3 separate regions of the Homo sapiens genome follow, and all the other regions are reported to be linked to region 1. The links are microRNA targets in miRTarBase. Many come from high-throughput screens and were not tested one by one. Region 1 holds a microRNA gene; each other region holds the end of a gene's coding sequence.
What was found. The annotated mature microRNA hsa-miR-3928-3p reads GGAGGAACCUUGGAGCUUCGGC and lies in region 1 at 4,929-4,950, shown strand. An mRNA with a match to its seed (bases 2 to 7 or 8) in the 3' UTR can be bound and repressed. Matches are read on the target gene's strand: a 7mer-m8 pairs with bases 2 to 8, a 7mer-A1 pairs with bases 2 to 7 and ends in A, and an 8mer does both.

Region 1 (7,116 bases):
TTGAACCTGGGAGGCAGATGTTGCGGTGAGCCAAGATTGCGCCACTGCACTCCAGCCTGGGCAATAAGAGTGAAATTCCATCTCAAAAACAAACAATTAAAAAAAAAATAAATTTTAGTGCAAATGCAGGCCGGGTGTGGTGGCACACCTGTAATCCCAGAACTTTGGGAGGCCGAGGCAGGTGGATCACCTGAGGTTGGGACTTCAAGACCAGCCTGCCCAACATGGTGAAACCCCACTCTACTAAAAATACAAAAAACAGCTGGGCATGGTGGCACACGCCTGTAATTGCAGCTATTCAGGAGGCTGAGGCAGGAGAATCGCTTGAACCCGGGAGGGGGGTTGCAGTTAGCTGAGATCATGCCACTGTATTCCAGCCTGGGTGACAGGGTGAGACTCCGTCTCAAAAAAAAAAAAAAAAAAAAAAAGACAATGAGGAACTGTCCCAGATATCTGATGAGACCAGGGAGACTTGACAACTAAATGTGATGTAGGATCCAGGATTGGGTCCTGGAACAGAAAAAGGACACAGTGGGACAAATAGCAAAATCTGAATAAAGTCTCTAGATTAGCTAGTAATATTGTATTAATGTTAAATTTCTTGTTTGGATAATTCTGATATAATTATGTACAGTTTTGACATTAGGTGAAGTTAGATGACAGATATACAGAAAGTTTGTGAATTATTTTTGCAAGTTTAGTATAAGAGTAAAATTATTTCAAAATAAAAAGGCCAGGCGCAGTGGCTCACGGCTGTAATCCCAGCACTTTGGGATGCCAAGGCGGGTGGATCACCTGAGGTCAGGAGTTCAGGACCAGCCTGGCCAACACGGTGAAACCCACCTCTACTAAAAATACAAAAATTGGCCAGGTGTGGTGGCACATGCCTGTAATCCCAGCTACTTGGGAGGCTGGGGCAGGAGAATCGCTTGAACCTGGGAGGCACAGGTTGCAGTGAGCTGAGACTGTCCCACCGCATTCCAGCCTGGGCAACAAGAGTGAAACTCCATCTAAAAAATAATAATAATAATAATAAGGGGCCAGGCACGGTGGCTCAAGCCTGTAATCCCAGCACTTTGGGAAGCTGAGGTGGGTGGATCACTTGAGGTCAGGAGATTGAGACCATCCTGGCCAACATGGTGAAACCCCGTCTCCACTAAAAATACAAAAATTAGCCAGGCAAGGTGGCGTGCACCTGTAGTCCCAGCTACTCAGAAGGCTGAGGCAGGAGAATTGCTTGAGCCCGGGAGGTGGAGGTTACAGTGAGCCGAGATTGCGCCACTGCACTCCAGCCTGGAGGACAGAGTGAGACTCCGTTTCAAATAAATAAATAAATAAATAAATAAATAAATAAAATAAAATAAAAAGTTAAAAAACAATACATGGCTGGGAGTGGTGGCTCATACCTGTAATCCTAGCACTTTGAGAGGCTGAGGCAGGAGAATCATTTGAGCTCGGAGATTTGAGACCAGCCTGGGCAACATAGTGAGACCTCATCTCTACAAGAAACCTAAAAGTTAGCTGGGTGTGGTGGTGTGTGCCCGTAGTCCCAACTACTCGGGTGGCTGAGGTGGGAAGATGGCTTCAGCCCAGGAGGTCAAGGCTGTAGTAGGCTATGTTCGTGCCACTGCACTCCAGCCTGGGCAACAGAGCGAGTCACTGTCTCAAAAAAAAAAAATGTACACGATGCAGGTCAGGAATTGGCAATTTTTTTTCCATAAAGGGCCATAGAGTAAATACTTCAGACTCTGTGGACCATATGGTTTTTATGGGAAGTAATCAACTCCACTGAGTAGCATTAAAGCACCCAAAGACAATATGTAAATATATATGAATATAAATAAATGGGTGTGACTGAAATGAACACTGAAATTTTATCTTCCTGTAATTGTCACCTATGTAATATTATTCTTCTTTTATTTCCCATCATTTAAAAATGTAAAAAGCAGGCCAGACGTGGTGGCTCACGCCTGTAATCCCAGCACCTTGGGAGGCTGAGGCGGGCAGATCACGAGGTCAGGAGATCAAGACCATCCTGGCTAACACAGTGAAACCCTACCTCTACTAAAAATACAAAAAATTAGCCAGTCATCGGGGTGGGCGCCTGTAGTCCCAGCTATTCGGGAGGCTGAGGCAGGAGAATGGCATGAACCCAGGAGGCGGAGCTTGCAGTGAGCTGAGATGGAGCCACTGCATTCCAGCCTGGGCAACAGAGCGAGACTCCGTCTTAAAAAAAAAAAAAAAAGAAAGAAAAATGTAAAAAGCACCCTTAGCTCACAGACCATATAAACAAGCAGTAGGTCCAGGTTTGGTTCACAGCCTATATATAGTATGCAGATCCCCACTCTAGGTCAGAATTTGCTAACGTGTGCTTCAATTAAAAAAAAAAAAAAGATTTGACATCAAGTAGATTAAACAAATGGAACAAGTTATTATCTTGGCTTATAAGGCACATTTCCTTATTGCAGGACCTCTCAGTGGTTTTAATGTGGTATTACACATTGAGAAGCTCCAAGAAAGAATAATGGTATGTGGCTTTCTCAAACTTATTATTAGCATCAAATCCTTTTTTCAGAGCCACTTCTTCAGACCAGTGGCCTGAAGAACATACTTATGAGAATGTCAATTCAGACACTTCTTTAAAAGGAAACTTTTAGATCGAGAAGTTCTAAAAACTCCAACAAATTAAGATCATTTTACCCAGTACCTGGATAACATCTGAATAAGCATTTCACAACTTTTTTATTTTTTAATCTTGGGAAACACAAGTCGATAACTGGCAGGAAGTTTTGGCTCAACCCTAACTTTTGTGGCGGCGGGGGAGCAAGTCAGCAGAACTGGGTCATAATATGGAGCCTCTGCTCCCTAAGACAACATAAACATTCCTAAGCATTCTAGCAGGTGTTGAAAAAGTGATTTAGGCAGAGCTTTGTAATGCACAAAATAAGGACATAATAATGTTTGATTAGAAAACCAAAGGTATGCTAGAGGCCAGGCACAGTGGCTTACACCTGAAATCCCAGCACTTTGGGAGGCTGAGGCAGGCGGATCACTTGAGGTCAGGAGTTCGAGACCAGCCTGGCCAACATGGTGAAACCCCATCTCTACTAAATACTCAAAAAAAAAAAAAAAAAAGCTGGAACTTGTCATGTGTGTGAACTGGCAAGTCAAGTCTATAAGAGGACTGTTTTTATATGATGCATGGAAAGCTAGCCAACAGACTGCAAAAATTCTCTCACATCTATACACATATTGCTGAAGAGAGGATTCAAGCAGGGATTATGTTCCAGGGAAGAGAAGGCTGGTCTGAACAACCTCAAGGGGTGCTTTCAACTGAGAGTCCTCAATTTTGTGATTCAGAGTTCACTGGCTTCTCCTGGTCAAACATAAAATCTTCAGAGGCATTTCCAACTTGTTCTTAGAAAAAAGCTACTAACCCATGGGGTGGGACCCAGTTTACTTATTCATTCAATAAACATTTAAGGTGCCTCTATCAGATATTGGGTCATTCCAAAGTCCTTGAAAAGAAGGATGGTGCACAGGACAACCAGGAAGAGATTATGTAAGGTCAGATGCATTGGCCTTATTTACAGGAGATGTAGGCTAAAGTGATGGAAGTGTCAAAAGAGAAGAAAAAAGTCACATTTGCCTTGAGAGCAGAGTCAGCACCAGAAAGATGCAGAACAACTCCTTGGAATCACAGACTTTCAAGTTGGAAAGGACCTTCATCTAATACCTATATACCTCCCTCGAAAGGAGGCACGGAGGCAATCCATTCACTCCATCGGTGGTCACCTCTGACGATTCTTCCATTTAAGTTCTTCTATTAAGCAAAAATCTTGCCTTCCTGTAGAATTCACCTGTTAGTCCTAGTTCTGCCTCTTTTAGCCTAAAGATGAAGTGGAAGCCCTCTTTGCCGTAACAGTATTTTCAATTTTTAAAAAGTTAATTCCCTTCCAGTGCTCTCTTTACTGAGCTAACCATTCCAGTTCTTTCAAAGTTCCTGAACTGGCACCAGCTGCCTCAAAGCGAAGAATGGATATCTAGTGCTCACAGCAGGAAAGCACTTAAAATCAATGAGCTTCAAACATTAGTATATACAGGACCCCCCTACGCATAAGTTCAGATTCTAAACCAGAAGTCTGAATTGAGTCCCGCGCTGTAAAGCCGGCATCTCAGAGAATTACAAAGCAGATGGTGTAAGAACCATATTTTGAAAAACACTGCCCCGTTTTAGAGACGAGAAAACTGAGGCCCAGCACAGGGAAGAGATTTGGCCCAGAACGCACAATTGTCTGTCGGTGGCGAAGTCTCGAATCCAGGTCTCTTACTTTCAGCCCAACTCTGTTCACCGCGCTCCCCGGCCTCTGCTTCTCCACTCAGGGCAAACTCGTGAAATGCACTCCCAGATGATAGAGGCGGTCTCGCACGGGGGATAGAATGGGAATCAGTGCCCATGCCTCGAAAGGAGAGCTTGTGGGAGCCCTTCTCTTTCGCAAGGCCTCAGTTTCCCCAATCTGTATTCATGGGACGCAGAACCACAACGCCAGCTCGTCCTCTTTTCGGGGACAGACACGACCGGTCTTGCTGTCTCTGGGCCCCTGGGCTCAGATGTTCAAGCCCGTGTGTCCTGGGAAGGCGGACCCGGGTCTCCCGCCCCCGTCCCTAAACTTTGGCGCCCCCGCCCCAACCCCAGCCCCTCACATACCTGCCTCCGCACAGTTAACGCCAGCCCAGTCAATCAGTTTTTCGGGTACACGGCCAATACTAACGCCGCGTCAATCTGTTGGGTAAGACCTCCGACCCCTCCTACGCGGACTCCAGTCACATGACGCGGAGCCGCCCCTCTCGGAGGGACTTCCGGCCCCAACCGGAAGAGGTTAATTTCCATGGCTGAAGCTCTAAGGTTCCGCCTGCGGGCAGGAAGCGGAGGAACCTTGGAGCTTCGGCAGCTTTTCAAAGAGCTTTGGGTTCGGGGCTCCTAAAAGAAAAAAACTGATTCCGGCCGGGCGCGGTGGCTCCCACCTGTAATTCCAGCAGTTTGGGAGGCCGCGGCGGATGGATCACTTGAGGTCAGGAGTTCGAGACCAGCCTGGCCAAAATGGTGAAACCCCTCTGTACTCAAAATACAAAAAGTAGCCGGTCGTGGTGGCGCACACCTGTAATCCCAGCTACTCGGGAGGCTGAGGCAGGATAATCGCTTGAACCCGGGAGGCGGAGGTTGCAGTGAGCTGAGATCGCACCACTGCACTCTAGCCTGGGCGTCAGAGTGAGACTCCGTCAAAAAAAAAAAAAAAAAAGAGAGAGAGAAAGAACTAACTCATTCCGGAAAGTACCAGATAAACTTGGAACATCTTGTTACACCAGAATATAAGGATGATGGTAATAAGAATCATGGGAATGTGTCAAAGAACACAGGAGCTGTCTTTAAGGAGATCTTACTGGCCAAGTCAGGGCAATTTCAGAATCAAAATATGGAGTGATAGTAATAGAGTATAACTAATTGAATAAAATAGTAATCCATGAGTCTTTACAAACATAAAGAAGTGAGCATATTAATGGGTGAAGGGAAAGTCTTCCTTTTAGTAGAATGCTAGCTAATAAACATGGTGGAATTAGGAAATCAATAATGTGTGGTAAAACTAGAGAAACGGGATGTTTACAACAGCAAAAGTGTCTCCCATAAATTAGCTATTGATTACAAAGGGAAAATGGTGATGTTACAGAGGTTTAACCTAGCAGAACAAACAGATCAAAGTGATCAAAGTTAACACCACTAGTTAATGGGTCAGATCAAGGGCCTCCTAATAAAATGCACTGAGAACACATCTGTGGTATTTCTGTCAAAAGTGCACCGTACACATCTCATGAGGAAGTGCTAGAGAACCCCAAATGAAGGACACTGTCTACAAAATAACTCATTGTCATGAAAAACAGAGAAAAGCTGAGGAACTGTTCCAGTTTAAAGGAGACTAAAGAAGCATGACAACAAAATGTGGTGTGTGATTCTAAATAGGACCCTGGACTGGGGTAGTGGTGGTGGTGGAATAGTTGTAATGGACAATATTGGGACAAGTAATGAAATTTGAATATGGATTGTGGATTAGCTGTTAATACATATTGTATCAAATCACATACTGATAGGTGATGGAGCTTGTGATTTGCACTCAAGCAGTCATTGGAGTTCTTGACAGCCATCTTCATTCATTCAACAAGCATTTATTAAGTACCTACAGTTATCCCAGGAACGGTTAGGGATCGGACCTGAGTAGGAGGTGAACATAGTAGATAAAGGCCGGCGCGGTGGCTCACGCCTATAATACCAGCACTTTGGGAGGTCGAGGCAGGCAGATCACCTGAGGTTAGGAGTTCGAGACCAGCCTGGCCAACATGGTGAAACTCATCTCTACTAAAAATACAAAAATTAGCCAGGCGTGGTGGCGGGCACCTGTAATCCCGGCTACTTGGGAGGCTGAGGCTGGAGAATTGCCTGAACCCAGGAGACAGAGGTTATAGTGAGCCAAGATCGTGCCATTGCACTCCAGCCTGGGCGACAAGAGTGAAACTCCATCTCAGAAAAAAAAATAAAAAATAGTAGATGAAATAAGCTCATAGATGAAAGTCCTAGTCTGCCAGCCACCTTTGCAAGTTCCTGTGATCAAGAAGTAATACAAGGGATGTTTCCAGTCACACAAACCTGGATTTGAAACCAAGCGCTAAGAGAAAAACAGCCCCTGACATCCAGGAGATGGTCTGGCACTCACAAATAGACCTTGGTGTGTTCTCTTATTGAACATAAAAACTTCACAGAACATCAACATCAAACAAAGCCACTATGTGACCATGATGGATCAAGACAATAACAAAACCACTTGAATCATGTCTAAACCCAGACAAAACATGAGCATTGTTCGAACTACAAAAATGGCCAAACATTTCCCTATTCTGGCTTGTATAGAGATTATAGATTTAGCCTCGGTCTACTCTTCCCTCCTTCTAAATAATGTTTATCAAGGTACTCACTCATAGGCAGCATCCAATCCAGAAAACCCCATTTTCTTAAGCCCTCGTCCAAATCACCTAATGCAAGCCCAAATCCTATGTGTCCTTTGTAAC
Region 2 (7,096 bases), not on the chromosome of region 1:
AAAGGCACCCAGAGCTCTCCTGCCATTATTCACGCAGCCACCTGGATTTCTCACCATCCCCAGAGGGTCTTCCTTTTAGGGTCCTAAGCTCTTACCCTATGCACCTGTGAGCCTGGGACACAGTGGCCACCCAATAAGTGTTGGTTGAGGCCAGTACTCCATAGACTATGAGAAAAGGCTTGAAGTCATTTGAGAGAGATCTTCCACCGAACCCAAGACAAGCACTGGCCATGCCTCCTTCCCAGCATTGCCCCTGCCCTCTGTGGTCCATTCGGGACTTGCTCCATTCCCAGCCTCTCTCTCTCTCTCTCTCTCTCTCTCTCTCTCTTTGCTTTCAATCTTTAGACCCTACGTGGACCTCGTGAACTTGCTGCTGACCTGTGGGGAGGAGGTGAAGGAGGCCATCACCCACAGCGTGCAGGTTCAGTGTGAGCAGAACTGGGGAAGCCTGTGCTCCATCTTGAGCTTCTGCACCTCGGCCATCCAGAAGCCTCCCACGGCGCCCCCCGAGCGCCAGCCCCAGGTGGACAGAACCAAGCTCTCCAGGGCCCACCACGGGGAAGCAGGACATCACCTCCCAGAGCCCAGCAGTAGGGAGACTGGCCGAGGTGCCAAGGGTGAGCGAGGTAGCAAGAGCCACCCAAACGCCCATGCCCGAGGCAGAGTCGGGGGCCTTGGGGCTCAGGGACCTTCCGGAAGCAGCGAGTGGGAAGACGAACAGTCTGAGTATTCTGATATCCGGAGGTGAAATGAAAGGCCTGGCCACGAAATCTTTCCTCCACGCCGTCCATTTTCTTATCTATGGACATTCCAAAACATTTACCATTAGAGAGGGGGGATGTCACACGCAGGATTCTGTGGGGACTGTGGACTTCATCGAGGTGTGTGTTCGCGGAACGGACAGGTGAGATGGAGACCCCTGGGGCCGTGGGGTCTCAGGGGTGCCTGGTGAATTCTGCACTTACACGTACTCAAGGGAGCGCGCCCGCGTTATCCTCGTACCTTTGTCTTCTTTCCATCTGTGGAGTCAGTGGGTGTCGGCCGCTCTGTTGTGGGGGAGGTGAACCAGGGAGGGGCAGGGCAAGGCAGGGCCCCCAGAGCTGGGCCACACAGTGGGTGCTGGGCCTCGCCCCGAAGCTTCTGGTGCAGCAGCCTCTGGTGCTGTCTCCGCGGAAGTCAGGGCGGCTGGATTCCAGGACAGGAGTGAATGTAAAAATAAATATCGCTTAGAATGCAGGAGAAGGGTGGAGAGGAGGCAGGGGCCGAGGGGGTGCTTGGTGCCAAACTGAAATTCAGTTTCTTGTGTGGGGCCTTGCGGTTCAGAGCTCTTGGCGAGGGTGGAGGGAGGAGTGTCATTTCTATGTGTAATTTCTGAGCCATTGTACTGTCTGGGCTGGGGGGGACACTGTCCAAGGGAGTGGCCCCTATGAGTTTATATTTTAACCACTGCTTCAAATCTCGATTTCACTTTTTTTATTTATCCAGTTATATCTACATATCTGTCATCTAAATAAATGGCTTTCAAACAAAGCAACTGGGTCATTAAAACCAGCTCAAAGGGGGTTTAAAAAAAAAAAACCAGCCCATCCTTTGAGGCTGATTTTTCTTTTTTTTAAGTTCTATTTTAAAAGCTATCAAACAGCGACATAGCCATACATCTGACTGCCTGACATGGACTCCTGCCCACTTGGGGGAAACCTTATACCCAGAGGAAAATACACACCTGGGGAGTACATTTGACAAATTTCCCTTAGGATTTCGTTATCTCACCTTGACCCTCAGCCAAGATTGGTAAAGCTGCGTCCTGGCGATTCCAGGAGACCCAGCTGGAAACCTGGCTTCTCCATGTGAGGGGATGGGAAAGGAAAGAAGAGAATGAAGACTACTTAGTAATTCCCATCAGGAAATGCTGACCTTTTACATAAAATCAAGGAGACTGCTGAAAATCTCTAAGGGACAGGATTTTCCAGATCCTAATTGGAAATTTAGCAATAAGGAGAGGAGTCCAAGGGGACAAATAAAGGCAGAGAGAAGAGACAGAACTAAAAATACGAGGAAAGGAGAGTGAGGATTTTCATTAAAAGTCTCAGCAGTGGGTTTCTTGGGTTATTTAAAACATCACCTAAATAGGCCTTTTCTTCCTAATTGGCCATCAAATTAAAGCCTATCCTTTCTCAAGCAGGAGCTGGTATTGTAGGGAGTGGCCGGGTATTCTGGGCTGGGCTCTTCTGGAGTAGGGGGTCAGCAAACATTGTCTGCAAAGGGCCAGATACTGAATCCAGTACTTTCAGTTTGGCGAGCCGTGAGGTCTCTGTCGAAACTACTCAACTCTGCCGTCCTAGCACAAAAGCAGCCATAGACAACACACAAACGAGAGGGCTTGGCTCCCTTCCAGGAAGATTTATTTAACAGGCTCCCAGCTGAATTTCACTCACAGGACACAGTTTACTGATCTCTGTTCTAGTGAGTGGGTCAAAAAGCATATGCATCCTTATCCGTCAACTCATCAGCTCTTCCTCAAGGCAACCTGAGGCCAGACACCAAGAAACCAAGCGTATCTGCTCTAAAATGACTTGTTCCTGGGGAATGCCTTCAACCAAAACACAGCTAGTATTTCTATGCCCCAAATCCAATCCCAGTCTTTCATGATCCATGCCGGCGGTTGGGTGGGGAGGGGAATCATTGGTTGGGGGAAGGGAGGAAACCCCACCTCCAGCCCCCGCCACCGGGCTCCCTGGGCACCCAGCAAGATCTGGGGCTGCAGAGAACAGAAGAGCTGGTGCACTTAATCCAGCTCTGCCCTTGGGGGGAGGAGGACCTGTGTGTCAGGCTCTGCCATGGGAACGAGTGTAAACCGTGGCTGTCTCCTGCAGTGAGCCACCGCGGCAGGCACGTTGACTGTTTTACTGACATCACTCAAAAGCTAAAGCAATAACATTCTCCTGCGTTGCTGAGTCAGCTGTTCATTTGTCCGCCAGCTCCTGGACTGGATGTGTGAAAGGCATCACATTTCCATTTTCCTCCGTGTAAATGTTTTATGTGTTCGCCTACTGATCCCATTCGTTGCTTCTATTGTAAATATTTGTCATTTGTATTTATTATCTCTGTGTTTTCCCCCTAAGGCATAAAATGGTTTACTGTGTTCATTTGAACCCATTTACTGATCTCTGTTGTATATTTTTCATGCCACTGCTTTGTTTTCTCCTCAGAAGTCGGGTAGATAGCATTTCTATCCCATCCCTCACGTTATTGGAAGCATGCAACAGTATTTATTGCTCAGGGTCTTCTGCTTAAAACTGAGGAAGGTCCACATTCCTGCAAGCATTGATTGAGACATTTGCACAATCTAAAATGTAAGCAAAGTAGTCATTAAAAATACACCCTCTACTTGGGCTTTATACTGCATACAAATTTACTCATGAGCCTTCCTTTGAGGAAGGATGTGGATCTCCAAATAAAGATTTAGTGTTTATTTTGAGCTCTGCATCTTAACAAGATGATCTGAACACCTCTCCTTTGTATCAATAAATAGCCCTGTTATTCTGAAGTGAGAGGACCAAGTATAGTAAAATGCTGACATCTAAAACTAAATAAATAGAAAACACCAGGCCAGAACTATAGTCATACTCACACAAAGGGAGAAATTTAAACTCGAACCAAGCAAAAGGCTTCACGGAAATAGCATGGAAAAACAATGCTTCCAGTGGCCACTTCCTAAGGAGGAACAACCCCGTCTGATCTCAGAATTGGCACCACGTGAGCTTGCTAAGTGATAATATCTGTTTCTACTACGGATTTAGGCAACAGGACCTGTACATTGTCACATTGCATTATTTTTCTTCAAGCGTTAATAAAAGTTTTAAATAAATGGCTTCCACTTGAGTAGCGTCATTGTCTGAGAGGGTCATTGATGTCCGGTGCACAGGGGGACAGCTGTGAGCAAGTGGGCTTTTACGTCAAGAGAATCCTATGCTTCTGTGGATGTTCAGCCTACAGGGAAGGAAGTTAGATGAAGAGGACTACCCTAGGCTTCTCCGTCAGAGGGACCCTGTCCAAGCCCCTGCCTGAGTCACCCAGACAAGGAGGAGAATAAATTTCATGCAGTTGGCCTGGAAGTGCCACCCCCACACCCCATTAGGCAGGTCCTTAAGGCTCACTCTGGTCTCACCTTTGAGTCTCCCCTGTGAGTCTCCCCTGTGGCTTGGCCACCCCTTCTCTCAGACTGAGCCTGCAGCAGACACCACCAGCTTAACAGCTGAGTGGCCTGGCATATAGAGGGAAGCCCACTGCCTCCTCCCCAGCTCTTGCTCACGACAGCAGAACAGAGCTGGAGCCCCTGGTTTACGTGATCTGTGCCACTGTTGGTGTACCTACTATGTTCCAGGCACCACAGTAGGCATTTTGCATGCATTATTTCATCCTCATTACATCCCACAAATAATAGGTATTATCCTCATTCTACAGGTGAAGAAACTGAGGTACAGACTTGTCCCAAACTGTGTGGCTAGTGAGTGGGGTGGGGTCTGAACTCAAACTCAGATCAGGACTCCTAAGCCCACACACCTTCCCCTACTTCAGGCCTAGAATCTCCACTTTAAATTTATTTTTAAGTTAAACCAATCAGTGTTATGCCTATTTTACACGAGGCTTGGGGAAAGAATAATTATACTCTTACATTTATAGTTCCAGGCCTCCAAGGAGTTCTGCTTCAAAATGGAAAGGAAAGTTAATGCTCTCACCTTTACTCTCTGCAAAGACTCAAATTTTGGTTCCGATAAGGAAAGCAGGAGAATCGTGGAGCCTCCTCATTTTTCTTTGCATGTGGATAATTTTTTATAAGATTCTTCTCATGCACCACTGGGAAAGCATTTGGGGAGCATCTGGTTTTCTTGAAACATGCAGCTGGAGCTTTCCTCACTAAACTCACCCCATCACCTTTCTGAGAAGCCAGCCTCCTCCAAACCCTTCACCAACATCATCACCCTCATCAGGACAGCTGCAGATTCCTGGGGACCCATGATGTGCTCCGTGCCTTGCCTGGTGCTTTAGGGATATTATTTCTGAAACCCATTTTAAAGATAAAGAAACTGAGGCTTCATGACATTTAATATGCCTGGAGCCAGTCACAAGGCTAGTGAGCTCTAGAGTCAGCATGCAAATGCACCCCTCCACCTTGTCTTCTTGCACTCCAAGTGTGAACACATGGGTTAAATGCACCCAAATGAGTCGAGAAATTCAGCTGCCTCCCTCTAAGCCCCAAGGTTGTTCCAATCCAACTGTTCTGGAATTATTAGGCTGTGGGAGGAAGAAGTCAGAGAGCTTCCAAATATGCTGGGATTTAAGCAGAGTTTCCAAAGGAAGCTGGATCTATGCACCCCAAAATCTGGACACAGAAAACCAAATTGGTTCTAAAGTCAACAAAAAAGAAAGCCCCCTGCTGAGGAGGCGACAACCCCTGGCCAGAGAACAGTTTTTATGTGAATTATTTTTTGTGGGTGGAGAAGAGAAGAAAAGAGCAATAGAAGCCTTGGGCTAGGAGTCCCGTGTTGCTGCTTGCATAAGCAGTTCAGTTTTTATCACTCCCCAAAAAGAACAACAAAAAAAAGTCACTTCCCAAAGAGTACAGAAAAAAAAAAGTCACAAAGCCAACCTAGGCTTATGCATGAAATGGACTCCACACCAGGATGAACCCAGATCTCATGGCACCTTAGAATCTGTAACCACCTTGCCACCATTGAACATCACGCCTGAGCTAAAACTTGGGAGAAACAAGGAAAGCTCCTACATGGAATTCTCAGAGGCAGGGTATTGTTCACAAGGTAATGAGGAGAATCAGCTGGTTCCGTTTCCCATTCGATAAATTCCAGGAATTTTTATGGTTCTTAAAACTAAGGGGGAATGCACATGTAAAAAAGCAGTGGCATGCTAAAGAGGACAGGGACCACCTGCTTGTCCCCTGAGATATGAATAATGTTCTGCAAAGGGCCAAGGGCTCCAAAGAGGGCTTTGTTCAGAAAGAATGATCAGTCCCTAGAATTCTGTCCCAGATGTTTATTGCTGTTTAACAAAACTACTCCTGAAGCTTAGTAGGTATAAAACAACTATTTTATTTTGCTCATAATTTTACAGGTCAGAAATTTGGAAAGGGTGGTTAGACTCTTCACATGGTGGTGGCTGGGGCAACCGGGGCTGGAGGATCCACTTCCAAGATGACCTTCCCAAGATGGTGCCTCGGTGCTCCAGGCCTCCTCTCTTCTCCCGTCCCACCTCTCCCACAGTCCCCATTGTGGTGCCTCATCCCCCGAGGCCTGTCAGAGCATGGCCGTCCGGGGGTAGTCTCACTTCTTCCATAGTGACTGGCTTCCCTCAAGACAGGCTGGAGGATCTTACACCATACTCTTCAAATCTAAGCTGTTTTCACCCTTGGTACTATAAGAACCACAGGTTCTAAACTCCATGAGGACAGAGGCTATGTCATTTTTTGTACACAGTTGCCTGTATCCCCAGCAGCTCTGCCATTGCTCGGTGTGAGTGAATGAATGAATGAACGAATGAATGAAAGAAACCTCTTGTCTAAAATGGTGCCAAAATGTCAAATCAGATGAGTTTCAATTTACTTTAACTTCTAAAGCAAATATATCCTTGCATCCTTGTACAAGGGATCAACATGTCATAGAATCAGTGAGAGGGTGTCAAAATTAAAAATCGCTGGGAAGCCTGTAATTTTGAAGTCAGGAGACATAGACAGGGGTACCAATCCAGCCACCTACTCATCTTGCACCAGGTAAATCTCTTTGGGGATAAGAAGGAAATATAACTAATGACTGAAAAAATCAGGACTGGCCCTGAGACCTTGGCGAATCGGTTCCATTTTCTAAGCCTGTTTCCTTAGCTACAAAATAAGGAAACCAACAGCTATCCTGCTTTTCTCAGGGGGATGGAGGGCAGTTGAAGATAAAATGACTTAAGCTATATAAAAAGTCACAAAGCCTAGGAAATGCTTTGAAGACGATGACATGCCACGTAAAGGGTGGTGGTTATTTCTCTCGGCCATTTCAGAAGACAGTGGCCTAAAGCCAAGATCACGGATGGGATG
Region 3 (7,096 bases), not on the chromosome of region 1:
GCTAGGAGGCTGGAAACAAGCCACATCCCAAAATAGCTCTGATAACCATGGGGCAGGAGGGCCCAGCCAAGCCTCAGCCCTGACAAGCACAGCCTGCAGCTGGCCTCCCTCCCCACTGGGCCTGGGCTCAGTCCCTGGTTTCCACTGATGGCCTGTAAGGCCCACTCACTCTAGGCTTTGTGGCCCACCTGAGAAGTGGGAGGCTGGCCTGGGAGATGGGACCCTGTGACTCAGAACCCGAGGCTGTGTACAGCCCCCGTGGCTGGAGGTGGTCACAGAGGCCTGGCAGGATAGGTGCACTGGAGCAGGGGGAGGTGGCGGGAGTGGACGGCAGAGGTTGCTGCAGGCTGGCAGGAGGCCCCTGGGACCTCAGTTCTGTGCCAGGATCTGTCGGGGAATACCAGGGGTGAGCAAGTATGGAGATGGGGTGGCAGGGTGTCACCCTGGGCAGGCTCTTTTATGGGCATGTGAGGGGGTCAGGGTGGGGTCTCAAGACCTTTCCTCCAGAAACTTCAGCCCAGCAGCGCCCGTTCTTGAATCCTGGGGTTGGCCATGAGCAGGTGGGACAGAAATAGCAACAGCTGGAGACGTGTGACCTTGAAACCGGGGCACTCTGCTTGGTGGGGAGCTGCTGGAGCCTCCTTAAGGTGGTTGGGGTGGGGAGCCAGGTTCTGATGCCCCCCCCGCCCCCCCACCCCCCCCAATCCCCCGCCCCCCCACTCCCCCCACTCCCCCCCACTCCCCCCCCACTCCACTCCCCCCCACTCCCCCCCCACTCCCCCCCACTCCCCCCACTCCCCCCACTCCCCCCACTCCAGGCTATAAGCGGGACCACCTGTCCTTCAGGTTCTGCGAGACGCTGCACCTAGTGGGCTGCTGCCAGCTGCCCACTGTCCGCACCCACTGCTGCCGCTCGTGCTCTCCGCCCAGCCACGGCGCCCGCTCCCGAGGCCATCAGCGGGTTGCCTGCCACTGACCGTGCCAGGATGCACAGACCGACCAACAGACCTCAGTGCCCACCATGGGCTGTGGCGGAGCTCCTGCCCCCTACGCCCTACGCCCTACGCCCTAATGGTGCTAACCCCCTCTCACTATCCAGCGGCAGGCTGGGGACCTCCTCCCCCCTCAAAAAAAGTATTTTTTTATTCTAACAGTTTGTGTAACATTTATTATGATTTTACATAAATGAGCATCTACCATTCCAAAGCACAGCATGACTTCATCTTGGATTTGGAGAATCTTAAAAGTGAGAAACTCTTCCCCCCACTCCTCTGCCCAAAACTCCACCGCCACAGCACCTCGGCAGGCGCGGCTTTTCACCTGCTCCTCTGGGGCAGATCTGCAGGGTACAGAGCAGCAAACAAGTCCGTGAGAGCATGGCGTCTGGTGAGGCACGGGCCTTGGAAGCTGGGGGGCTGCTGCCCAGGGAGGGCTATCTGCGGAGGGTCGGGTTCTGGGGGCAGGAAGGTCTTCCGGGCAGGGGCACAGCTTGGCCCTTACTTGCTGCCTGCCTCTAGCTCGGCTCCCAGCTTTCCCTGGGGCCCCACTCTGTGGTCCTCAGAGACCTGTTCCACAGGGATTGGGCCCACCTTGTCACTTGCAGGACTGCCCCTTGGAGTGATGGGGACTGGGGCCCCCAGGGGCACCTCCCTGGGCCTGTTGTATCTGTTGACTCTTCTGCAAAAAGTAGACAGAGAAGAGAGCAGGCTGGCCCGCTGTGCTCTACTGTGTCTGTCCCAGGACTCGGAAGGTAGGGAGGGAGCGTGGCCAGGGCGGCTGCCTGCAGGTGCGTGTCCTGCTGCTCCCCAACTCAACATGCTCACCTCATTTCACACCAACAAGCCCCATCCTCAGAGGAGGAGCCCAAGGCTCTGAGAGGAAGTAACTGGCCCAAGGGCACATGCCCTGGTGACACAGGCCCATCCTAGGCCCTGACTGCCCACCTCCAAGTTCCAGGCCACCCTGAGCAGGCCCCAGTGGCAGCTTTGCACAGAGAGGGCAGCCTGCCAGAGTTCACACAGGAAAGCAAGTTGCTGGGCAAGCTAGAGTGAGTCCCAGCCCCGCTGTGCTGCCCGAGGGTAGAGGAGCGTCAGGCGTGCTTCCTGTCTGTCTGCAGCAGCCCGGCTGGCCCAAAGAGACTCTAGGGACCCAAGCTCTGAGTCATGGCTTCCCAGGCCTTAGTCAGAACGGCCCCTGGTGGCACTCCCTTCCAAGGGGTGGGGAGCAGGGCCTGTCGACTTGCTCCTGACCCACACACGGAGCCAGTCCCTGTCCCAGCTCTGCCCCAGCTCTGCCGCCGCCGCTCTGCTGCGTGACTCCAGGAACCCCCAGCCTCGCTGAATCCATGTCCGCAGAAGAGAAAAGCCTGCCAGGCCTTGGCCTGCCCTGTCTGGGAATCCTTGCTGGAGCCACCCCGAAACACCCCTATGGGAACCCCTTTGGTCTTTATCATTCTTGGGTGTTTTCCACTGATGACTGCGGGTGTGCCCAGTGGCAGCTGGGCCTGAGCTGTCAGCCCAGGCAGGAGACAAACAAGCCTGTGACTCAGGCAGGGCATGGCACAGCTGGCGGAAGGAGGCATGCCTGTTCTTTGTGGCTGGGCGGGGGGTTATCCGGACACAGGGAGTCTCCAGCTTCCGGCTTTCCCACCTCGGTGCCCCCAGCCCACACCTGCAGCTTGGCCATGGTTCTTGGGGCCTCCCAAGGCTGCCCCTGCTGGCAAAGGCATCCTGATGCACCCGCCCCAGGGTGAGCCAAGGGCAGAGACACCCAGAAACGCCAGGCTGGAAGGTTGGAGAGCCCCTCCTCGCCCCCCGCAACACCAATAAGCCCTGCCCCACCCTCCAAGCCCTTGGGGTGAGCCCCATCACCAGTGACTATAACTGAATTTCAATGCAGAATATTATACAAATTAGTAGTTTATTTCTTCCTTTAGTATTACAGTTCCAAAACGTAACTTGAAGGTCAGCACAGGAGCTGCTGTGATATAAAAGGAGAGAGTCACCTGGCGCCCCCTGCAGTCCTCCAGTTGCCCAGCAGCAGTGGGACGTTCAGTGGCACACAGTGGGTCTCTGTATGGCCTCCCACCTGCAAGGACTTCCCCGGGCAGGCCCAGCTGCCCAGAAGCCCCGGAACACACAGGAAGACAACACTATAGGATGGCAGGTGGGGATCTGTGCAATACAAACATGTAGCTAGAAAACCCAACCGAGGATCTGTCTAGAATACTTCCGATATCAATATACCGTAGTTGAAACCAGAACCGTCTCCAGCTGTCAGCAGTCTTGGCGGCTACTGTACAGCTGTCAGCATGACTACAGGCAGCGCCCGAGGCTATCTGGGGTAAGAAGTGGGCCTGCACATCACATCGGTGAGTCAGTGAGAGTCAGGGCCAGAGGGAAAAGCAACTCGGAGGCTGAGGCTGGCACAGATACACACAAGGGAGTCACACACATAACATAATAACTTGTTATATAAAATAGATATGTGGAATCTAGAAACACCTTGAGAAAATAGCCTATAAAAATATAAACTGTAGTGAGAGTGTACAAAAGTATTAACAGAGGTTCAACCCATAAAAAACCCCATCCATTTAAAAGTTGGCAATTCCTAGCAGGTGTTGGGAGGGAGCTCCCCTCGGTCCTGGTGCGCACGTTTGGACAGGCCTTTGGGTTTCCCAGCTGGCAGGGTCCCCCTTGCAGGGGCCACGGGCTGGGTGTTGGGGTGAAGGTTCAGAGGAGGAACAGCAGCTTGGGGCAGCCCCTGTCAGAAGGGCCCCCTGCCATGGCAGCCAGTGGAGGCCAGGGACCTTCAGGGCACTGGAGGGGACAGAGCAGCTCTTTCCTCAGTGACCCGAGGGAGGGGAAGTGTTAGCGCAAAAGAGTGGGGCCCACAGTCCTGGAAGGAGGAGTTGGCTCCGTCCCGTTCCCAAACTTTAACCAGGCGGAGCCGCCCTCTCTTGCCTTCTGGACACGCATCACTTGATTCCAGGCAGGAGAACCTCTGAGAAAGTGTCCCCAGTCCCTTTCCTCCAGGAACTCTCCTGCTGTCGCACACACACACTGCCCGGCAGCTGCTGACAACTGCCTGGAAACACTAACATACCACCGTGGGTTGCAGCCACGACGGGCCCCTGGTCAGGTGCATCTCTCAGGGCAAACTGGACAACACGAGCCTGTCCCTAAAGGCAGCTCTTAGCCCCAGGACATGGCAGTGTGTGCTGGCATGTTCCAGGGGCCATTGGCTCGGAAAGTAAAACCTCAGGGCCCAGCCCCATTCCTGCTGCACCTCCTCAGCAGCCGCCCCCCAGGCTGACAGCTGTCGTTTCACGATGGGCTGAGGGGTGGGGGGGGTTCCAACACTTGATTCGAGCAGACTGCAACGCCCAGCTCACAGGACAACTGAAGGAGTCAGACCTCAAACTGCTGCTCTCAAAGACAAAGACAATGACAAAACCCATTTTTGATGCCTGAAAAGAGGCAAAGGCTTCTGGCTAAATATAGAGGCCAGCTCCGTCTACCCAGTGAAACATTAGTGGAGTTGGTTAAAGACACGAAGCCGGAGCTCACTCTAGCATGTGCTGAAACACCAACTTTGCCGTGGCATTGCCAAAAAGTTGACAGCAAAAAATAGGAAAAATACTTCTTAAAACTGCATTGCTTCAATTCTTAGTCTCAGTGTGTTCACAACAAAGGATGATTTCCAGTTTTTTTCGGGTAATATGAAACATTCCACTGAGATCATTTATCTTGTATTTTCATAACACTGTGCCAGAAAACATCCTCTCACATCTACGCATCAGGGATGGTCTAGAGCGATTAAGCAAAAACAAGCTCCTTGCTCAAAGCCTCTCCCCAGCCTTCAGAAAGGCAGTCCTCTGAGTTCCCAGAAACTGCTGTGTCAGAGGCAACAGTGCCCCTGCATCCTGGCAGAGAACAAGGATGTTCCAGGCAGTGGTGGGGTGGGCACACATCTGGGAGAGCTCACCCAAGCCTGCCCCAAGCAAAAAAGTTTCCCAGCCCCAGGCACTGGCAGCCGGCCTCCTGCACAACCCAGGCAGGTGGAGACACCAGGAGCACTGGCCATCCCCAAGGAGGCCATGGTTTTCAGCTGTCCAAGAGCGTTCACGCTGCGGCTGCACCACTGCCCTGCAAAGCACCCCCGAAAACATTCCTCCATCCCCTCAACCAAGGCCAGCCCAGGCGTGGGCCTGCTTTGCAATATGACGGTCCACTGTTTACTTGGAATCCCATCCCATCGTACTTGGTGAATGATTTCCACAAGTCAAGAAGGGCATTCCACAGAATCTCACAGAGCCATGCCTGGCACGGGGCAAGCTGGGGACAGAGCAGCCCAGTGATCTGCAAACACAGGCTGGCCATGAGAAGTGAGGGTGGGTGTCTGGGCAGCCAGGCCCTCCCCATGCAGGCTGGAAGACACTGATGGAAGGGTTGCGTGTGGAAGAGCAAAGGCTATTCTAGAAATGGGGCATGGCTGGCAGCTTAAAGCCACTGGTGGGAGGTTCACAGGCTTTCCTACAGTGGCCATTTCTGAACAAGGGATGTGCCTGCTTTTCTAAGGCAGCCCCTTTTCATACCAACCTTATGCCTGAGGCAGCAACCCTCTGGCCTACAGGTGCCTAAAGCACAGCTGGCATCCTTTATAGCACTGCCATTCAAAACCACACACCACTGCCCACTATGTACAGGAGAGAGAATATGGGGAGATGCCCAGCAAAGCAAGGTTTCAGAGGGTCAGAGCACCGACAGGCTGACGGAGGCTGGAAACAGGCTCTTGCAAATAGCCACTGGTAAGCCTGAGGATCCACCAACCAGGCAGAAAGCGTGACTGAGATACGTGTAACCAAAAGCATGGCACGGAAATGGTTGTAAACAGATTAGACCTCCCACCCCTGCCCCCCGCACAGTGGGAAATGAGGAAGGGCAGCCTGGCTTGGGACATCTGCCCAGCAGATCCCCAGAGGACACACACGTTACATTCTGGCTTTTAAGTGCACTTTCACCCTTTGGGCACACTTTGGTTGTGAAGGAAGGAAGAGCAGCATCCCGAGCCCACTCAGGTATCCTCCTCCTCGTCACTGACCAGCTCACCCTTGTCAGGGCTGGTGTCCCGCTCACGCAGGAAGTCCTCACGGATGGCCTCCAGCTCGGTCAGCTCCAGCCGGACTTTCTCCAAGTGGTAGGCGCGTCGGTTCCGGATCTGGCGTAGGGGGAAAGGGTTCAGGTCCCCAAAGGAGATACTGATCAGCTTCCTGGCAGGACGCAGGGGAGAGACAAGAGAATCAGCGGCGCTCCAGAGAGTGCTCACACACAGCCCTCACAGGCATAGCAGGTGGCCTGGGGCAGGGTGGGAAGAGCGCTGGCCAGGCTTGGGGCCTGATGTAGGGGATGAGGCCCACCTTCTGTAGAGAGGTGACAAAGCACAATGGCCCAGCCAGGGGCAGGCTCAGAATGACGACCTGGACTCCAGCTCTGCCACATGCTTGCTGTGTGACTGAAGTCACCCCCCTTTTCTGGCCTCTGATCTTCATCTGCACACTGGGGTAAGAGTAGTGCCACCTCCTAGGGTGTGGGATTACTCGTGTTCCCACACATAAGCCCTGAGAAGAGCTCCCGGCACTTGCATGGTGATGGCAGGTATGTCTTCATCCTTGGGCGGGCATGAGGCCTGGCACCGGGCACGAGTCCGGGACGTCTGTGTCCCAGGACTCATTGACTGGGAATGAACACAGGCCCAGGCAGTCCTGGCGATGACTGTCAGACCCAGTTGGCAATGTGACAAGTGTCCAGATGCAGTCTACAGAGAAATGTGCAGCTTGTGGGTTTCACATCCCCAGGTCAAGGCTCCAATTTTCAATAAAAATGTTAAGGTTATGATCCACTTGCTCCTAACCACTGGTCAGTGGCTTAATAAAAACAAGACCAAAAGCTGTCCTGAGGCCTGGCTATGGATTTGTAGCACTAATGGGTCAGCCACACTGGTCTCTGGGGATCACAAAATAGGCCAGTTCCTAGGGCCACCTTCTTCCCCTCTCTGGATTCTGCCAGGCCCCAAATGCTTTGTATCCACCAACATG

Region 2: the mRNA of STC2 is a reported target of hsa-miR-3928-3p. Seed matches in the 3' UTR shown: 7mer-A1 at 2,514-2,520.
Region 3: the mRNA of TBC1D2B is a reported target of hsa-miR-3928-3p. Seed matches in the 3' UTR shown: 7mer-A1 at 5,934-5,940 and 7mer-m8 at 3,738-3,744.

Annotation. Positions count from the first base shown.
Region 1 is chr22:31,157,896-31,165,011 of GRCh38, reverse strand. MIR3928 (microRNA 3928) reads left to right here and starts at 4,893; the gene lies at 4,893-4,950. RNF185 (ring finger protein 185) reads right to left here and starts at 4,830. Exons shown (of 7, transcript NM_152267.4): 1 at 4,709-4,830.
Region 2 is chr5:173,311,499-173,318,594 of GRCh38, reverse strand. STC2 (stanniocalcin 2) reads left to right here. Exons shown (of 4, transcript NM_003714.3): 4 at 346-3,872. The coding sequence ends at 748. Among named protein-coding and RNA genes, the nearest start is that of MIR12118, 11 kb to the right of the region's middle. RefSeq lists an enhancer at 539-1,738.
Region 3 is chr15:77,992,085-77,999,180 of GRCh38, forward strand. TBC1D2B (TBC1 domain family member 2B) reads right to left here. Exons shown (of 13, transcript NM_144572.2): 13 at 2,901-6,271. The coding sequence ends at 6,076. It overlaps LOC91450 (a long non-coding RNA gene), which reads right to left and starts at 2,141. Exons shown (of 1, transcript NR_026998.1): 1 at 1,149-2,141. It also overlaps the pseudogene ADAMTS7P3.